Regions from separate parts of the Homo sapiens genome. Here region 1 is linked to region 2. The links come from fine-mapping of genetic effects on gene expression. A gene starts in region 2. The other region holds a variant in brackets. All regions are shown on one strand. Distances are between the middles of the regions. Region 1 has its middle 20 kb from the start of KRABD4. Region 2 holds the start of RP2 (RP2 activator of ARL3 GTPase).

Region 1 (9,983 bases), 410 kb before region 2:
TTACTTAGCCAGGATTTTCCAAATCCTTATGTTCCTCTTCCCTTTTAATTATACATTCCATGTTTAAATCATTTCTCTCTTCTTGCATTTAACTATATGCAATTAGAAGAAGTCAGACAACACCCTGAATGCTTTGCTACTTATATGTTCTTCTGTCATATCCTAGTTCATTGCTTTTAAGTTCTGCTTTCCACAAAACCTTCAGACATGGGTACAATTCAGCCAAGTTATTTGCCATTTTATGACAAAGAAGGACTTTACTGTAGTTTATGATACCTTGTTTCTCATTTCCATCTGAAATCTCACCAGAATTACCTTTACCATTCATATTTCTACCAACATTCTGATCATGACTACTTAGTGATCTTTCAGAAATTTCGGACTTTCCTGACTGCTCTCTTCTTCTGAGCCCTCACCAGAATCGCTCTAAACACTTTATTCATGGCAATATAGGCTTTTGCTAGGATACTCCTCCAAGTTCTTCCAGCCTATAACCACCACCCAGTTTCAAAGTAGCTTCCAGATTTTCAGGTATATGTTATAGCAACAGCCCTATTTCTGAGTACCAAAATCTGTATTCGTTGGGGTTCTCCAGAGAGAGACAGAGCCAATAGGATAGATACATGATAGGTAGATAAGTGATAGATAAATAGATAGATAGATAAGAGGGGATTTATTAGGAGAATTTGCTCATGTGCTTATAGAGGCTTAGAAATCCCATGATAGGCTATCTGCAAGCTAAAGAACCAGAGAGGCTGGTAACATGGCTCAGTCCAAGTCTGAAGGCCACAGAACCAGAGAATCGAATGGTGTAACTCTCGGTCCAATGTCAAAGTCCTGAGAACCTAGGAGGTTGCTGGTGCAAGTCCCAAAATCCAAAGGCTGGAGAACTTGAAGTTCTGATGTCCAAGGGCAGAAGAAGAAGGGTGTCCCAGCTCCAGGACAGAGAGAGAGAGAGAGAGAGAGAGAAAGAGAGAGAACACGAATTCACCTTTCCTCTGCCTTTTTCTTCTATCTGGGCCCCCAGCCAACTGGATGGTGCCCATCCACATTGAGGGTGATCTTCCCCACTCAGTCCACTGACTACACACCAATCTCTTCTGGAAACACCCTCACGGATACACTCAGAAATAATGTTTTACCAGTTTTCCAGGTATCCCTTCATCTAGTCAAGTTGACACCTAAAATTAACCATCACACCAAAGTTTTCTCTTATGTTTTTCTCTAAAAGTTTTAGCACTAAAATTTAGGTCTTTGACCCATTTCAAGTGAATTTTTGTGTATAGTGTGAGGTAAGAGTGCAAATTCATCCTTTTGCATGTGGACATCCAATTGTCCCAGCAACTATCATTGAAAACACTATCCTTTCTCCATTGAATTGTCCTGGCACCTTTGTCAAAAATCCATTCACCATAAATGGAAGGGTTTATTTCTGGACTCGATTCTGTACCATCATCTGTCTTCATGACAATATCACACTGTCTTTTTAAACTTATTTTTAGAATAGTTTTTAAAAATTTTTAAATTGACAAATAAAAATTGTGTGTATTTATGTTGTACAACATGATATTTTGAAATATGTATACACTGTGGGATGGCTAAATCAAGCTCATTAACATGTACATTACCACACATACTTATCATTTATTTGTGATGATAATATTTGAAATCTACTGTCTTAGCAATTTTCAAGTATACAATACATTGTTATTAGCTGTAGTCACTGTATTGTACAATAGATCTCTTACACTTATTCCTCCTGGCTGTAAAATTTTGTATCCTTTGACCAACGCTGTCTTGATTACTGCGGCTTTATAGTAATTTCTGAAATCAGAAAGTGAAAGTATTTCAACTTCTGTTTTTTTTCAAAAATCTCTTTGTTATTCTGAGTCCTATTAAGATCAGCTTATAAATTTCTGAAATAATTCAGATGTCTTTACTTATGTATAGTTCTATTTATTTATCATTATTATTTTTTTTTGAGACAGAGTCTCACTCTGTCGCCCAGGCTGGAGTGCAGTGGTGTGATCTCGGCTCACTGCAACCTCCGTCTCCCTGGCTCAAACAATTCTCATGCCTCAGCCTCCTGAGTAGCTGGGATTACAGGCGCCCACCACCACCCTCGGCTAATTTTTGTATTTTTAGTAGAGACAGGGTTTCACCATGTTGGCCAGGCTGGTCTCAAACTCCTGACCTCAGGTGATCTGCCCCCCTCGGCCTCCCAAAGTACTGGGATTACAGGCATGAGCCACCTCGCTTGGCCCACTTATGTGTAGTTCTATTTTGATTCTCTGTCTCTACTTGAATCATTTTTGGTAATTTGTTTATTTCTAGCAATTTGTCCACTTCACCTACATTGTCTTTAAATTCCTTTGTTGAATTGTTTTGCTACATATTTAAAAGTTATTTTCTTAGTTGTTGCTCTAGGGATTACAATATGAATCTTAACCTGTCACTCTCTATTTCATAGTCATTACTAATTACCTTTGGCAAAATATAAAAAATTTGTACTAATATCATATATGTCCACTTCTCCCCCCTACACACACTCTGCTATTATTTTCATATATGCATTATATTTTTATATGTTATAAGCATAAAAATCATTTTATAAGAATTGTTTTATGTAAGGCTGGGTGCGGTGGCTCACGCCTATAATCCCAGCACCTTGGGAGGCTGAGGCAGGTGGATCACTTGAGGTCAGGAGTCTGAGACCAGTCTGGCCAACATGGTGAAACCCCATCTCTACTAAAAATACACAAATTGGCTGAGCGTGGTGGTGCACACCTGTAATCCCTGCTACTCAGGAGGCTGAGGCAGGAGAATCGCTTGAACCCGGGAGGCAGAGATTGCAGTGAACCGATATTGCACCACAGAACTCCAGCCTGGCGACAAAGCAAGACTCTGTCTCAAAAAAAAAAAAAAATGAGTTGTTTCATGCAATCTTATGTCATTTAGATACATTAGGAAAAAAATATATATTTATATAATATTGTATATTTACCTACAGATTTACCTTTTCTGGAGCTTTGTATTTCTCTGAGTGAATCAGAGCTACCATCTAGTGTCATTTCCTGTCAGTGTGAAGGATTTTATTTTTTCTAGAAAAACACCTATGTCTATGAGAAATAAGGTTACTTTGGGTTTACAAAATACTGGATAACTAACCCAGAGGCAGATACAAGGCTAAAATGGAAAGGATACAAATATTCTATTTGTATCCCATTAATTCCTGGTACATTCATATTTTGACATGGTGTTTCTACATATTTTGGAAAATGCAACCATGAGGTGGCCAACAAATCTTTGGATTATCCCCCTCCAACCTATGTGAGAGTAGGTTGCAGATTCCTTCTTTGAAAAAAAACGTTAATAGGAAAATCTTGCAGTAGAGAGCACTTCGTCACTTTGATATGGACATCACCACTACCACCTCAAGCTAAGAGAGGGTCCACGAGATAACTCAGAATAACAGAGGTTGCCTTCCATATGGAGAGACTGACATCTGCTTCTGCCCCAGGTGCTGAGCTGTAGAAACGTATAGACCTACCCAATTCTGTCTCTGGGATACAGCTTGAGGGAGTTTTTGGTAAAGCTTGACATGTCCTCAGAGTTTTAGAATGTAGATAAGGACAGAGACTGATGACTGCTTCTACCTGGATAAACCTGTAGAGAGGAGGCTCGTGTAGCAGCCTGACATGGCAGGGTAAGGAAAGCGAGTCTAGACAGCGTGTATGTCCAGAGTTTGGTGGGGTGAAGATGTGTGGGTTTTTCCCAGGGGCCAAGAAGGCAGCCAGTTGGAAGAATCTTGAAGGGTGGTGACCCAAGTGGACAGGTTGTCAGGTGAGGAAACTGGTGGTAGGAGTAACTCCTGTGGTAGAAACTGAGACAGTAAGTAATTGAGTTCAGGAGTATTTGCAAATTCGGTCTTTTTGGGCTTTTGGGGGCCATCAGAACATCCCTATATATTCTTTTTTTTTTTTTTTTTTTTTTTGAGGCAGAGTTTCACTCTTGTTGCCCAGACTGGAGTACAATGGGGCCATCTCGGCTTACTTCAAGCTCCACCTCCCAGGTTCAAGCAATTCTGCTTCGGCCTCCGAAGTAACTGGGACTGCGGACATGCACCACCACACTCGGCTAATTTTTGTATTTTTAGCAGAGATGGGGTTTCACCGTGTTGGCTAGGCTGGTCTTGAACTCCTGACCTCATGATCCACCTGCCTCAGCCTCCCAAAGTGCTGGGATTACACCCCGCGCCAGAACATCCTTATATTCTCTCCACTACTTCTCTGTATTGCTGCTAAACCTGTACAGGACCTACAAAGGTCTTGCCGTTGTCAATGGTTTGGTTGCAACCATTTGCATTCTGGTGTTCCTGGGGATGCTCGTCACCTCGTTTTGTTCATAATGTAATCTGGGAAATTTTTTCTTTTGCCATCATAATGGTTCTTTGCTATCATAATGGTTTTAAGATAGCATTTAGGGAGATCAAAAACTACACTATAAGCAAGGCCCTATGGCTCATGCCTATAAGTCCAGCACTTCAGGAGGCCAAGGCAGAATGATTGCTTGAGACCAGGAGTTTGAGACCAGCCTGGGCAACACAGGGAGACCCCGTCTCTAAAAAAAAAAAAAAAAATTTAAATTAGCTGAATGTGGTGGTGCATGCCTGTAGTCCCAGCTACTCGGGAGGCTGAGGTGGGAGGATAGCTTGAGCCAGGGAGGTCCAGGCTGCAATAAGCCATGATTGTGCCACTGCACTCCAGTCTGGGTGACAGAGCAAGCCCTTGTCTCAAAAAAACCAAAAACCCAAAAACTGCACTACCATTATTACCTTGCATTGGCCTGTTAGTCCAGTACTGACTTGTTAAAGAAACCAGGCCAGTTAACTTGTAGACTGTCCCACATTCTATATCATCTGATTGTTTCCTCATGATGTCGTCTAACTCTTCCTTTATCTCCTGTATTTTCTGTAGACTTGAAGTTAGGTCTAGAGGTTTGATCAGTTTCAGGTTAAGCATTTTTAACCAGAATACTTAATAATGACCAAGAACACTTCATGGGTAATATTGTGCAACCACTTTAATGATGCTAAGTTTTCTAACTAGCAAGTAATCTGTGGACTGACATTTTAGAGAGCGGGATGTTAGCATCGTGTTCAAAAACAACTTTTATTGAATGTTTTTAACATCCCTCAAGGATCTTTGCCTGAATCAATTATTACACTGAGGCTTGCAAAATAGTGATTTACTAATTACACAATTATTTGTATATTTATTAGGTGGCAT[TC/T]TTTTATAAATAATGGCTGTAGTAAATAATGTGTTGCTCTGCTCAGATCTCCTCTTCAGGGCCAACACACTATCCTCCTACTTCTGGGAAAATCAGCTACTGACTTCACAGCTATGTCCCTCATTTCAAACTGACCTTGGCTACAGAGAACTGCTTTACTCAAGGCTACCCACCCCTTTCACCCCTCAAGGAACAGGCAGTAGTCAATGAGTATCTGATGTAGAAATACAAGTCATGCATGGCTTACTGATGGGGATACATTCTGAGAAATGCTCGCTCCTTTAGACAATTTCATCCATGTGCGAACATCATGAGTGTATTTACACAAACCTAGATGGTATCATCTACTGCACACCTAGGCTACATGGCATAGCCTATTGTTTCTAGGCTACAAACCAGTACAGTGTATGACTGTACTGGATACTATAGGCAATTGTCACACAATGGTAAGTATTTGTGTACATAAACATATCTAAATGTAGAGAAGGTAGTGCATCATGCTAAGATGTTATGACAGCTACAATATCACTAGATGATAGGAATTTTTCAGCTTCATTATAATCTTGTGGGATCACAGTTGTATATGCGGTCTGACATTGACTAAAACATTCTTAGGCAGTGCATGACTCTACAAAGGTTCAGCCCACTCTCCTTAATTTGAGACAACTCTGAAGGGCCATCCCAGCTCCAGAGCTCTCTGTAGAATTGTCTCAGGCCTCAGTTGTAACTGCATTGTAGGTCAACTTCTCTCTCGGTCCAGTCTTGTCTTCCTCACCCTCTTACAGATGTTTCTCCACAGATCTCTTCCCAATAAACTTTCTGTATCCAGCTTTCCATCTGAGAGTCTGTTAACCTGAAATCCATTATAAGACAAAACAAACAGCTTTCACCTTTTTTCCTTTTAACCTTTCCTTATAATGTTTTTGAAGTATCATTATGAATTTAGGGAATTTAATTTATCGAATGTGTTAGAATAAATTACGGCCGTTATTCTTTTTGATGTTGAAATGATCTCAAATGTGGCCAGTGAAGGCCCTTCATGATGCTGCCTATGTCATGGGGCCCCATGAGTCTTTAAGCATTTCCTTGCTTTTTAGCACAATAAGATAGCCCATGAGCAACATGTATTTTTCTACCCCCAGACCTGGAATTAGACATTACCCAAAAAATCTCTGGTGCCCTTTTAGTGAGAATGGTGGTTAGAGATCAAGATAATGGGCACTAGGGGTAAACTATTTTGTTTAATTTCATTATCTAAACGTCTTTTTGTTGATATACAGAAATGCAATGTATTTCTGCACAGACATTCACTGGGGTTGCATTAGAATTAAAATTAAGTTCTCCTAAATCTCAATGTATATTAGAAATATTTTCAGCTGCAAGTAACAGGAAGCTCACTCACAATGGCCTACAAAAACAAGATGTTTAGTTAGCTCACCTGATAAGGAGTCTGGTTACAATCAGTCTGGGACTAATGCAATGGCTCAATGATTCTGTCAGGGGGGACCCATACTGTTACTATTTAGCTCTTAGTTTGTCCTCTTGTTTTTTGCCTCATTGCTACAAGATGACTGGCCTACACCAGGTATTGTCTACATTCCAGGCAAGTGTAAGGAAGGATAAAGAAGTTAATGACAAAAATATATTCTCCTTTCCAGGTTTTGCTTTTTTATTGGGGAAAGATGCCCTCTCTGGCCGGGTGTGTTGGCTCACGCCTGTAATCCCAGCACTCTGGGAGGATGAGGCAGAAGGTTGCTTGAGCCGAGGAGTTTCAGACCAGCCTGGGCAACATGGCAAGACCCCAGCTCTACAAAAAATACAAAAATTAGCCCAGTGTGTTGGCCCGTAGTTCCAGCTACTCGGGAGGCTGAGTTGGAAGGATTGATTAAACCCAGAAGTTGGTGGCTGCAGTGAGCTGTGATCATGCCACTGCACTCCAGCCTGGGTGACAGAGTGAGACCCTGTCTCAAAAAACAAATACCCTCTCCAGATAATTCCACTTGCTCATTATTAGACAGAACTGTCACAAGTCCAACTCTTGATGTATAATAAAGTAGTTTAGAAAATTGAGTTTTATTTTTAGCTGCTAGCCCAGAATTATATTCCCAGTGAAAATATCCTTTAAAATGAACATAAAGTAAAACTAGTCTCAGAAAAACCAAAACTGATACAATTAATTGTCACCAGAGTATTTATTCAGGTTAGAAAATAATGAGCCCCAAAATATGAAAATGCAAAAAGGAATAAAGAGTACAGGAAAGGATAAATATGTAGGTCAACCTATATGAATACTGATTGTATTAAACAATTATCATAATGTATTGAAAGGCTTAAAATATACATAGAACTGACATTCACAGCAACAATAGTACAAAATATAAAAGGGAATTAATTGAGTTGAAATATTTTACATCATTGCATTGTTGAGGAAGTAGTAAATATACTAATCTGTAGTGGACTAATAAATCAAGGGTGTACATCATAATCCTTAGAACCATTAAAATAATGATTAAAGAATGCAAAACTAAGAAGGTGAAGGAAGGGAAATAGAATAATAAAAGTTAATTGATTAATCCAAAAGTCAGGAAAGGAGAAAAAAAAGGAACAAATAATAGGAGACAAAACAGGTGAGAAGTAGTAACATAGTATACTGAAACATACATATATCAGTAATTATGATGAAGCTCAAATTGTCAGAATGGATTTTAAAAAGAAGGGTAACTATATGTGGTTTACAGGAAATATATCATTAATATGAAAACAGAGATGAAAAGCAAAATGATGTAATATAATATACAATGCAAATACTAATCAAAAGATGGTTGGTGTAGCTATGTTAATATTGTGGGTTGAATGGTAGTCCCCAAAAAGATATGTCCTAACCCCCAGAACCTGTGAATGTAGCCTTATTTGGAAAAGGGATCTTTGCAAAAGTAATTAAATTAAGGATCTTGAGGTGAAATTATTCAGGATTATCCAGATGGGCTCTAAATCCAACGACAAATGTCCTTATTAGAGACTTAAGAGGAGAAGAGAGAGAAGAGGAGAATACCAGTAAAGACAAGCAGAGACTGGAGTTATGTAGCCATGAGCCAAGGACTCCTCAGAGCCACCAGAAGGTGGAAGAATAGGAAGCATCCTTCCCCAGCACCTTTGGAAGAATTGCATTCCTGTCAAACCTTGATTTTAGACTTCTGCCCTCCAGAACTGTGTGAAAGTAAATTTCAGTTTTTAAGCCACTAAATTTGTGGTAATTTGTTATAGAAGCCCTAGGAAACTAATAAAGATTTTGGTACTAGGAAGCAGGGTGCTGGAGTAACAAATAGCTAAAAATATGGAAATGGCTGTGGAATTGAATACCGGACAGAGGCTAGAAAAAGTTTAAGAAGCATGATGGAAAAATTCCAGATTGCCTTGAAATGATTGTTAGTAGAAATATGAACATCAAGGCAATTCACGTCACGGCTCAGGAGGAAATGAGGAGTATGGTAGAGAAGGCTTCTATAACCTTAGAGAATACATATATTGTTATGCAGAATGTTGATAAAAATATGAACAATAAAGGCATGTATAGTAAGAATGCAGAAGGAAATGAGGGACGTGCATTGGGAATGGAGAAAAGGTGATCCTTGTTATATAGTGGCAGAAAACTTGGCTGAGTTGTATTCCACAGTTGTGTAGAAAGCAGAACTTGTAAGTGATGAATTTAGGGATGTAGCTGAAGAGATTTCCAAGCAGTGCTAAAAGTGTGGCCTAGTTTCTTCTCGCTGCTTAAAGTAAAATGCAGGAGGAAAGAGATAAATTGAGAAAGAAATTGTTAAACAAAATGGAATGAGCATTTGATGATTTGGGAGGTTCTTGGCCTACCAAGTTTGCAAAAGATGCTAAAATTAGAAAATTCACTGTTGAGAAAAAAAAAAGAAAATTTACTGTCGGGAAAAAAAAAAGAAAATTCACTGTTGGGAATAAATGTTCCAGGGAGAGGGTTAAGGGTTTTGCTAAATAACTTTTTGCTGAAGAGATTAGGTGTGTTACTCATGGACCCAATCAACCATCTCAGCAGAGGCCAAGAATCAAGGGATGGAAATGAGAATGGCACTACCCACCCCTAGAGATCCACTAGCAAAATTTTTGCTTCCAATCTCTGCGACCTTATGTTTTACTGGTCTAGAGATCTTAGTTTCAAAGGAAGGAATGCTTTCCACTAGGAGACACAACAATGATTCCATTGAACTGGAAGTTAAGACTGCCATCCAGCTGCTTTGGGTTCCTCTTGCCTCTAAATCAACAGGCAAAGAAGGAAGTTACTGTACTAGCTGGGGTGATTGGGCCTGATGAGCAAGGAGAAACTGGGCTGCTAATACAATTGAAGGTAAGAAGGATTTTATCTAGAGTACTGGAGTTTCCTTAGGGCATCCCTTGGTACCACCATGTGCTGTGATTAAAGTCAATGAAGAACTACAACTCAATCCAGGCAGGACTCATAATTGTCCACACCCCTCAGAAATGAAGGTTGTGTAACCCCACCAGGCAAAATACCACAACCAGCTGAGGTGTTTGCTGAGGGCAAAGGGAATATGAAATAGTAATGAAAGATGGCAGTTATAAGTACCTAGCTATGAGCACATGACTGGTTGCAGAAATGAGGACTATAATTGTTATTTCTTCTTTGTTTTTGTATGAATATGTGATAT
Region 2 (9,983 bases):
GGACAGAAAGGCCATGAGGAATCAGGGTGGGATAGCTGTTGTCAACCATGTAAATGCTGATGAGTAAGTAGAGAGCTGGTTTGCAAAAATAAGTAGTGATGAGAATTCATGGGGACAGGTGAAAAAGAGATGGGGCAGAAAAGAAAGAAAGAATAAGAGAGAAAGAAAAAGGATGAGACAGCACTAGTATTAGCTCTGTTCATTAGCTTTCTAGTCCCCAGTTCTTAACATTTGATTTAATTTTCTTTTTGTAATTTTGTTTTTGGTCAAGAGTGATGGTAGGATGGGAATGAACAGAAAAGGGACTTTATCTTCACTTTTAAGGGTCCCTGAAAAGATCACTCTTGGATATAGGTTTTATTGTAGATTTGAGCTTTTCTCATTAATGAATACTTCAAAACAGTGAGAGTTTCAGAGGTTGTTTCTCTAGAATTAGTTTTGTTATATTGTTTGTTCATTAAGAGGAATAGCATCACTGTGGGACAGAGCTCCCATAGGCATCAGAAGGCCGAGGCAGATACTTATTTCAGATGAATTAGAGAGGAACAAACTTAAGGCAGGAGGAGGCACTGGGAAACACAGGATGTGGATTTTTCCAGTCCCTGCTCAGCCACTCTCATCGTGACCACAGATTCATCCCTTCACCTCTCTGGATCTCTGCCTCCTCTGCTACACTAAGTAGTGGTCATAGTTATATATTTATATCTGGTCACAGATGTTTTATAATCATAGACCATAGATTATAAATATAATAATAGATTATAAAATATCGAATGAGGGTCTTATCCAAAAACATCTTCACATAAAACTTTCATCTCACTCTGAAGGAGAAAAAGTGTGCACTGGGTAAAGACTCTATTGCCTAAGATCTGGAACTTAAATTTGCAGTAATTTCTAATACTTAAGCACATGTACTTTTCTTCCCGATTGTGCAATAAAGGACGGGAAGTAAAAAGGGGAACATTCTTTATGTTCAAATTAAGTCGGCCGGGCACTGTAGCTCACGCCTGTAATCCCAACATTTTGGGAGGCCGAGGTGGGTGGATCACCTGAGGTCAGGAGATCGAGACCAGCCTGGCCAACATGGTGAAACCCCGTCTCTACTAAAAATACAAAAATTAGCCAGGTGTGGTTTTGTGCGCCTGTAGCCCCAGCTACTCGGGAGGCTGAGGCAGGAGAATTGCTTGAACCTGGGAGGTGGAGGTTGCAGTGAGCTGAGATCATGTCATTGCACTCCAGCCTGGGTGATAAAGCGAGACTCTGTCTCAAAAAAAAAAAAAAAAAAAAAAGTCAGAGGCTCATTTAGGATACAAACTAGATGTGAATAAGTATGGGAAATTTAAAAGATAACCAAATTTGAACCTGAAGTGATCAGCATTTGATATCCTACTGAGATGTCAAAATACTGTTTCTCAGAGAAACTGACTTACCTTTCTTTTCTATTACATAGGCAATGCATGTGTATTGCAGTAAAATTCGACCCAAGTATAACAAATGTTTATATTTAGTGTATATATCTTTAAATATATTCTGACGAACCCTATGCCATTTGCTTAGAACAGATCTGATCGTTCATATGCAATGCTTATGTCCTCAACGAGGCTATAAACTCCATGAGGAGAACCCCTTTACCATAAATCCACATGCCTCCCACCCCCACAGTTTGGTCACTTTCTTTGGGAAGGGATGGGGGAAGTTTATAAATGCTTCCTTCACTAGCACCCATGCATGCATTCATTCATTTGACAAACGTTGTATTGAGCACCTAGTATGGACTTGGGCCAGGTGTAGGAGATTCAAAGGTACATCCCTCCCCTCAGCTTTCCTCCCCACTGCCTTTTTTTTTTTTTTTTTTTGAGACGGAGTCTTGCTCTGTCGCCCAGGCTGGAGTGGAGTGGCGCCATCTCGGCTCACTGCAACCTCCGCCTTCTGGGTTCAAGCTATTCTCCTGCCTCAGCCTCCCGAGTAGGTGGGACTACAGGCGCCCGCCACCATGCCCGGTTAATTTTTGTATTTTTAGTAGAGATGAGGTTTCACCATATTGGCCAGGCTGGTCTCGAACTCCTGACCTTGTGATCCGCCCGCCTTGGCTTCCCAAAGTGCTGGGATTACAGGCGTGAGCCACCGTGCCCGCCCCCCCCGGCTCTGGTTTTTTTTTTTTTTTTTTTTTTTAGACAGAGTCTCCCTCTGTCGCCCAGGCTGGAGTGCAGCGGCGCCATCTTGGCTCACTGCAACCTCCACCTCCTGGGTTCAAGCAATTCTCCTGCCTCAGCCTCCCGAGTAGCTGGGACTACAGGCACACGCCACTACGCCCGGCTAATTTTTGTATTTTTAGTAGAGACGGGGTTTCACCAGACGGGGTTTCACTGTGTTGAGCAGGATGGTCTCGATCTCCTGACCTCATGATCCTACCGCCTCGGCCTCCCAAAGTGCTGGGATGACAGCCGTGAGCCACCGCGCCCGGCCCTGCATGCCCTTTATGACATACCTTTTAGGCCAGGCGCGGTGGCTCATGCCTGTCATCCCAGCACTTTGGGAGGCCGAGGCGGGCAGATCACCTGAGGTCAGGAGATCGAGACCAGCCTGCCCAACATGGTGAAACCCCGTCTCTACTAAAAATACAAAAATTAGCCGGGCGTAGTGGCAGGCGCCTGCAGTCCCAGCTACTCTGGAGGCTGAGGCAGGATAATCACTTGAACCCGGGAGGCGGAGGTTGCAGTGAGCCGAGATGGCACTGCTGCACTCCAGCCTGGGCGACAAGAGCAAAAACTCCATCAAAAAAAAAAAAAAAAAAAAAAGATATACCTTTTTGATCTCAAGAAAGTCACAGTTCAAATAGGGAAACAATACACAATTAACTATTTTACTAAGTACTTGTGCAATTTTAGAGCCATATGTGAAAGTCTTAAGAAAACACAGAAGCAGCCTGGGGTGCGGTGGGTCCTGCCTGTAATCCCAGCACCTTGAGAGGCTGAGGCAGGATGATCGCTTGGGCCCAGGAGTTCAAGACCAGCCTGGGCGACATAGCAAGACCCCATTTCTACAAAAGTAAAAAAAAAAAAAAATAGGTGGGCATGGTGGTGCTTGCTTGTAGTTCCAGCTACTCAGGAAGGAGGCTGAGGCAGGAGGATCGCTTGAGCCCAGGAAGTCAAGGTTGCAAAGTTGCAAGGTTGCAGTGAGTTATGATTGTGCCACTGCAGCCTGAGTGACATAGCGAGACCCTGTGAAAGAAAAAGAAAGAAAGAAAGAAAGAAAGAAAGAAAGAAAGAAAGAAAGAAAGAAAGAAAGAAAGAAAGAGCACAGAAGAGGATTGGGAGGTTATGGGGTACAATTCTTGAGGGGGTGACCCTGGCCAGGCGATGAGAGGGCGGTAGGAAGGGTGATGAGGGGAGAAGAGGATTTAGAAATACAAATTTCAGGGTCTTCTTGTGTCAGCGGGAATTTCTGTCCCTCACAACTTTCATCATAAGATAAATCTAATGTTCAACTAGAGATCTCTCCCGCGCCTTGAACTTGCAAATTTATGAATCAGGGGCAAAAAAAACCCGGATACCGAGCCTGGCCTCCCACCAGCTAGAGAACCCACCAAGTTCCAGGAGGGGCGGGGCCGAGGGCGGTCCGTGCCACAGCTGTGGGCGGGGTTGTCCGTGCTTGCGCCAGAGCCGGCCCGCCCCGCCGCCAGGGGCTGTCGCAGGAGCCAGGCGTGGATTGGTATGTGGGTATGTCGGCCTCTCTTCATAGGCCGCGCAGGATTGCTCGAGAGGCTTTGATTGGCTCAACAGGCGCTGAGCGTTCATTGGCTGCGCTGGGTCGTCAGGGCGACGAAAAAGGGGAAGGGGTGCTGGGCCTGGCGGGCAAACTAAGGCTGCGGACCGTTGGGCGGTTCCGCGGGGCGTTGTCCGGAGAGCTGCGAGGCCGGGGTTCCCAGGGTTCACGCCACACTCTAGGAAGTGCCTGAGCTAGTGAGCTGGCCAACGAGCTCCGCGGGCTGGGACCATGGGCTGCTTCTTCTCCAAGAGACGGAAGGCTGACAAGGAGTCGCGGCCCGAGAACGAGGAGGAGCGGCCAAAGCAGTACAGCTGGGATCAGCGCGAGAAGGTAATGAAAGTCGTGTAGCCGCCGTCTCAGCCTCCCTGAGCCGCTCCGCCAGGTCCCTTACGGCCCGGGACCGCTGAGGGGGCCGACCCAACTGCTGCCGCACTCTCTTGAACGCGGATAGCTGAAGTCGGGGTGCACGACTTTTTTGGGGAGCGGGGACGTGAAGTACAGCGCTAGAGAGGCCGCCCAGAGGGCTGTGGAGCTCCGGAAGGAGCCTTAGGAGTTTGTTGTCGTGGTAGACAGACTCCCCCGGGAGCTTTCTCTGACTCCGAACCCTGCCTTGCTCTGACTTCCTGTTGGAGATGATCGATTCGAGAGAGGGAAAGAGCCGAGAACGCCCTGAATCTCAAATCACCTCGTTTCACCCACCGGCAGCGTCAAGCGGGGTTTTGTCCAGTCGTCGAGTTACGTATATGGGACCGATTCTCATCTCTTCCGGGGCTTAATGTTCTGTGGCTGTTTTCTCTTTTGTCTGCCCTCCCCGGCAAATCTCTTTGGTGCCTCATGATATATTTCACTGCTGAATTTTCTCAATTACCAAGTGGACTGTTTAATGTACAGCTTTACTCCCCCTCCTCTTCCAGTTATCCGAAAGAAATAATGAATATCGCATCAGTCTTGGAATGTGTATTAAGACTGTAAGGTGAAAATAAGCGGCATAAACCAGGCAGTATTTTACTGCTGGTTTAAATGAATGAAAACGCCCTTATTTTTATTTTTGTATATAGCCAGAAACGAAAAACCTTTGAAAACCTCCATTAGTCTTACACAAAACACACTCGGTCATACATTTCATAATAGTTCCTCTTTCTACATAGTTCTCCATTTGTGCTTACTAAACTACTTTGATGGACTTATCAATTATTTCTCCCAAACAAAATGAGAGATTTTTCAAATGGGTATTATGAACAGTTAACTCTTTGCTTAAGGCAACATATCTTTACCCAAGATTACTTTATAATAAATGTATTAACGTTTTGGAATCACAGACCTTTCTGCATGATTTCCAATCCCCAGCAGAATGTATTCAGGTAAGCTCTGGTCTCTAAGAGTCAGAGTTAGGAAATTGAAAGCTTTTTGCAGCTTTTCTCAGCCCCGTCTTTCTGCCCCTACTTCTCATACACACCCTTCTTGGGTCACATGGTACCTTTATTCTCTGTTAGTCATACTCGATAGTAGCATTTTATAATGTAGGGGAAGAAAGTACTATGCTTTCTATTTCACAAGAAGATTGCACCTGCCATTTAAAGTTATCTGATGGGCGGTTTTTAAAAGATATTGTTTTCCTCAGCCTTTGGCTTTCTAACAATGTTCTTTTAGCTTGAATTGTCTGCCTTAGAGAAAGTTGCATATTTCATTTTTATTTTAGTTTTTTCTTTTGAACTCAGGCTAAATCTAAACTAAATAAAATGCCTTTTTTATTTATAGTAGTCTTGGCTGCCTATGACTCATCGTTTCACAATAAATTGTTTTACAGTTAATGTTTATTAACATAATATTCAGGTTAGTTAGGACTTCTCATGTTAATCCTTCTTTTAGATAAGTGTGTGTGTCCTGTGATTTTTTTTCTTCTTTTGCCCATTGGCTAAGTAAATGCATTGAGAAATATAACATTGGACACCAACATCTAAGCTTTTTCCCCACAAATGAGTGTGTAATAAACTTTCAATTGTAGAAACTGTTTTGAGCTTACAGAGAACCTTTTTTTTTGAGAACACTACTAAGTTCTGTAGTTGTAGAGTTGTAAGAGATGTTATTGGATATATAAAATAAGCTCATGCTTCTGAGTGTGTGTATAATAAAAGTTAAAATCTTGATCAACTCAGCCAATCAAAATGAGAATTTCTAACCAAATGAGCATTCTGAAAAAAACCCCAGTTTTAAAATATTTTGGACTGTTGAAGAGAATTACCAGCTTACATTTTGAGACAATGCAGATACCACATTTCCCAACATAGCTTTTTCTTTTTAGTTTTTTTTTCTTTTGGAATTACTAGGAATTCTTTCTAAGTTGCCTCATTTTGATAGCTTGTTAAATTTTATACAATTTAAAATATTTTTTTCTAGGGCCAGGCATGGTGACTCATGCCTGTAATCCCAGGACTTTGGGAGGCCAAGGCTGGTGGCTCTCTTGAGCCCAGGAGTTCCAGACCAGCCTGGGCAATATGGCGAAACCTCATTCCTACTAAAAATACAAAAATTAGTGGGGCATGGTGGTGCACACCTGTAGTCCCAGCTACTCAGTAGGCTGAGGTGGGAGGATCACCTGAGCCTGGGACTTAGAGGCTGCAATGAGTCATGATCGGGCCACTGCCCTCCAGCTTGGGCAACAGAGTGAGACCCTGTTTCCAAAAAAAAAAAATAAATAAATAAAATATTTTTTCCTAGTTCCTTGCCTCCCGTGAGGTTAATTTGGGCTAGTGTGCAAATGTTCTGTATTAGTCCAATGATACGTTTACTGAGCATGGCCTTGCTTGCTCCTAGAAGATTTCAGTTGTACCTTAAAAGGAACAGATTGCAAATACAGCCCAGAGAACATAAATGAGATATGATGCATGCATATTAATAGAAATGATTTATATTAAAAGTTTAGGCTTCTGGAATGTGGTTATGGATTATAGCATATACAGTTTTAAAGTTATATCAGACAATTACCATTCAACTTGTAAGACTTTTACATGTAAAAACAAAATGGGTTGCCTGAAAAATTTCCTTGCAGCTTAGAAAAGGGTGTTTACATTTTTCCTTAGGTTGTGTAATCAGAGTATCTTTTTTTGATGTTTTCTTTTTGAGATGGAGTCTGGCTCTGTCATCGCCCAGGCTGGAATGCAGTGGCGCGATCTCGGCTCACTGCAACCTCTGCCTCCTGGGTTCAAGCGATTCTCCAGCCTCAGCCTCCTGAGTAGCTGGAATTACAGGCGTGCACCACCACGCCTGGCTAATTTTTGTATATTTTTAGTAGAGACAGGGTTTCACCTTGTTGGCCAGGCTAGTCCTGAACTCCTGACCTCAGGTGATCCACCTGCCTCAGCCTCCCAAAGTGCTGGGATTACAGGCGTGAGCCACCGCTCCCAGCCCAGAGTATCTTTATTGAAGGGCACCCCTTGGGTTTTGGGGTTTGAGTTGTGTAATTGGGTCAGTCTTAGGGGACTGAAGCTGGGAGAAATTGTCTCATTTAGAAGGAATGTCTGGGGACTAAGCATTGTCATAGCAACTGACATACTGTAGTCAACAGTGTAAGAAGCTCATTTTCTATTGCTACTGACTTTGAAAAAGAAAAAAGATTACAATTCTTACACTGATGTGATGAGAAATATTTTTGGATTGTAAGACTTGTGTTTAAATTATTTCAAAAGAAATGTTTTTATCCTTATCTGTATGCTGCCACCCATAGGTAGGCAAATTATTCAGTATGTATGTACTCAAACACCAAGTAAGTCTCAAAATTATAAGACTTATCCCTGCCCTAAAAGAGTTTACTGGCTTTCTGGAGTTAAAACAGGAAACATTTAAGTACATATGAGGTGAGGAAGAGTGATACGGAAAAGTAGTTTTCATCTTCCAGTATTCATGCCCATACTTTTCCTCCTAGATAATAGAAATGAGGATTAACTCTAAACAATTATGGCTTAAGTGTGAAAATTGTGATTTGAGTAAGGACAACACATGTGTCTGTTATATTTGTCTCATATTCAATAGAAATAATACTAAACAAAAATCTTATACCAGAAATTCGAGTATCTATTGTGTAACTTTGGGTAAAGCAGCCAATTTGTGCACTTCAGGTTCCTCAGCTATATAGTAGGACAATGCTAAAGATTTCTCTACTGTTTAGTAAGGTAAAGGCCTGTCCTGAAGAAGAGGTTTAGACAGTAATGGTCACCTCTGAGGAAAGAACTTAAACCAGAGGTTGGGCATGACAGAACTGGTTTTAACATAAGGCAGATCATAATTCCCAGGATTGGTCATCAGTGGAAGGGGTGGCTTCGTTGAGGACCTGATCTCCATGTTAGTCAAAATTGTCAGACAGTTAGGGTGGTAATCTGCTAGAAAGAAGTGTCTGCACTAAGTAGGAGGAGGCTAGATACTGTTTTTAGCCTTCTTTTAAGTATGAAAAGTATTCTAGTTACCCATTGCTGTGTACCAAACCACCCTAAAACTTAATGGTTTAAAATAATGGCAGATATTTTGTTCATAACTCTTTAATTTGCATAAGGTTAAGCAGGGTTGACTCTGCTCAATGTGGCATCAACCGTGACAGCTTTCAAGATGGCTTGACCACATAGCTGGCTGGCAAGTTGATGCTGGCTTTGGGCTGGGAGCTCAGCTGGGGCCTCTCCATGTATTCCTGGCTTCCTTACAGTGTGATGGCAGGGTTCCAAGGGCAAGCATCCTAAGAGAGACTGGCAGAAGCTGCATGGTTTTTTTCTAACTAGCTTATTAAGTGAATTCTTAAGTCACTTAATTAGACTTAATTTGGATGTGGCAGGAGTAATGCTGAGGCAGTCACAAATGCCCACCCAGTTCCAAGAGGAGGTGACCTCTCAATGGGAGGAGTGTCAAAGAATTTGCCAGTAGGTTTTAAATCCTCTATATAAAGTTGTTTAAAGGATATAACTAGTTCTTTGTTTATTAATTTTAAAAATAGCTTTTTAGAGATATAATTCATATGCCATACAATTCACCCATTTAAAGTATATAATTCATTCTATCTAACTGTATATATATTTTTGAGATGGAGTCTCACTCTGTTGCCCAGGCTGGAATGCAGTGGTATGATCTCCGCTCACTGCTCCGCCTCCTGGATTCAAGCGATTCTCTCACCTCAGCCTCCCAAGTAGCTGGGATTATAGGCGCGTGCCACCACACCCAGCTAGTTTTTGTATTTTTTAGTAGAGATGAGGTTTCACCATGTTGGCCAGGCTGGTCTCGAAACTCCTGGCCGCAGGCAATCTGCCTGCCTCGACCTCTCAAAGTGCTGGGATTACAGGCATGAGCCACAGTGCCTAGCCGTCTAACTGTGTTTTTGTACTCATTAACCAACCACTCTTCATCCTCTCCTCCCCACTACCCACCACAGCCAACTATTGTTGATAATAATTTATTGTATATTTCAAAATAGCTAGAAGAGAAAATGTGGAATGTTCCCAACACAAAGACATGATAAGTGTTTGAGGTAATGGATATCCCAGTTACCCATATTTGATCATTACATTGTTGTATGCTTGTATGAAAATATCACATGTACCCCATAAATGCATACTACTATTATTATATATCCATAAAAATTTAAAATAAATTTAGTTTAAAAATAAAGTATATAATTCAGTATTTTTTAGTAAGTTCACAGGCTTATCACCATGGTCTAATTTTAGAACATTTTCATCCCTGGAAAAAGAAACCCTGTACCCATTAGTAGTCATTCCCCATTCTCGTCTCTCCGAGCCCCTGGAAACCACAAACTTATTTTCTGTCTCTATAAGTGTTCCTATTTTGGACATTTCACTTCATTGGAGCCACAATATTTAGCCTTTTGTGACTGGCATCTTTCACTTAGCATGTTTTTGAAGTTTGTCCATATCGTAACATGTATCAAGACTTTATTCTATTGTATGGATATACCACATTTTATTTATCTATTCATCAGCTGATGGACATTTGGGTTGTTTCTACTTTTTGTCTATTATGGATAATGGTGCTATGAACATTTGTATACAAGTTTTTGTCTGGACATGTTTTCATTTCTGTTGTGTACACATCTAGGTTTGGAATTGCTGGGTCATATGGTAACTCTATGTTTAACTTTTTTTTTTTTTTTTTTTTGAGACGTAGTCTCACTCTGTCGCCCAGGCTGGAGTGCAGTGGTGTGATCTCAGCTCACTGCA

The links. PIP is the estimated chance that this variant, and not a neighbour inherited with it, causes the effect.
Region 1: its variant is the best candidate, but not a certain one, in a credible set for the expression of RP2 in whole blood (TOPMed, PIP 0.88).

What each region holds. Positions count from the first base shown.
Region 1 is chrX:46,422,096-46,432,078 of GRCh38, forward strand. No RefSeq gene overlaps it. Among named protein-coding and RNA genes, the nearest start is that of KRABD4, 20 kb to the right of the region's middle. The variant TC/T (reference allele first, on the strand shown) is at 5,289.
Region 2 is chrX:46,833,105-46,843,087 of GRCh38, forward strand. It overlaps RP2 (RP2 activator of ARL3 GTPase), which reads left to right and starts at 3,939. Exons shown (of 5, transcript NM_006915.3): 1 at 3,939-4,098. The coding sequence starts at 3,997. RefSeq lists a silencer at 3,541-3,620 and an enhancer at 3,931-4,070.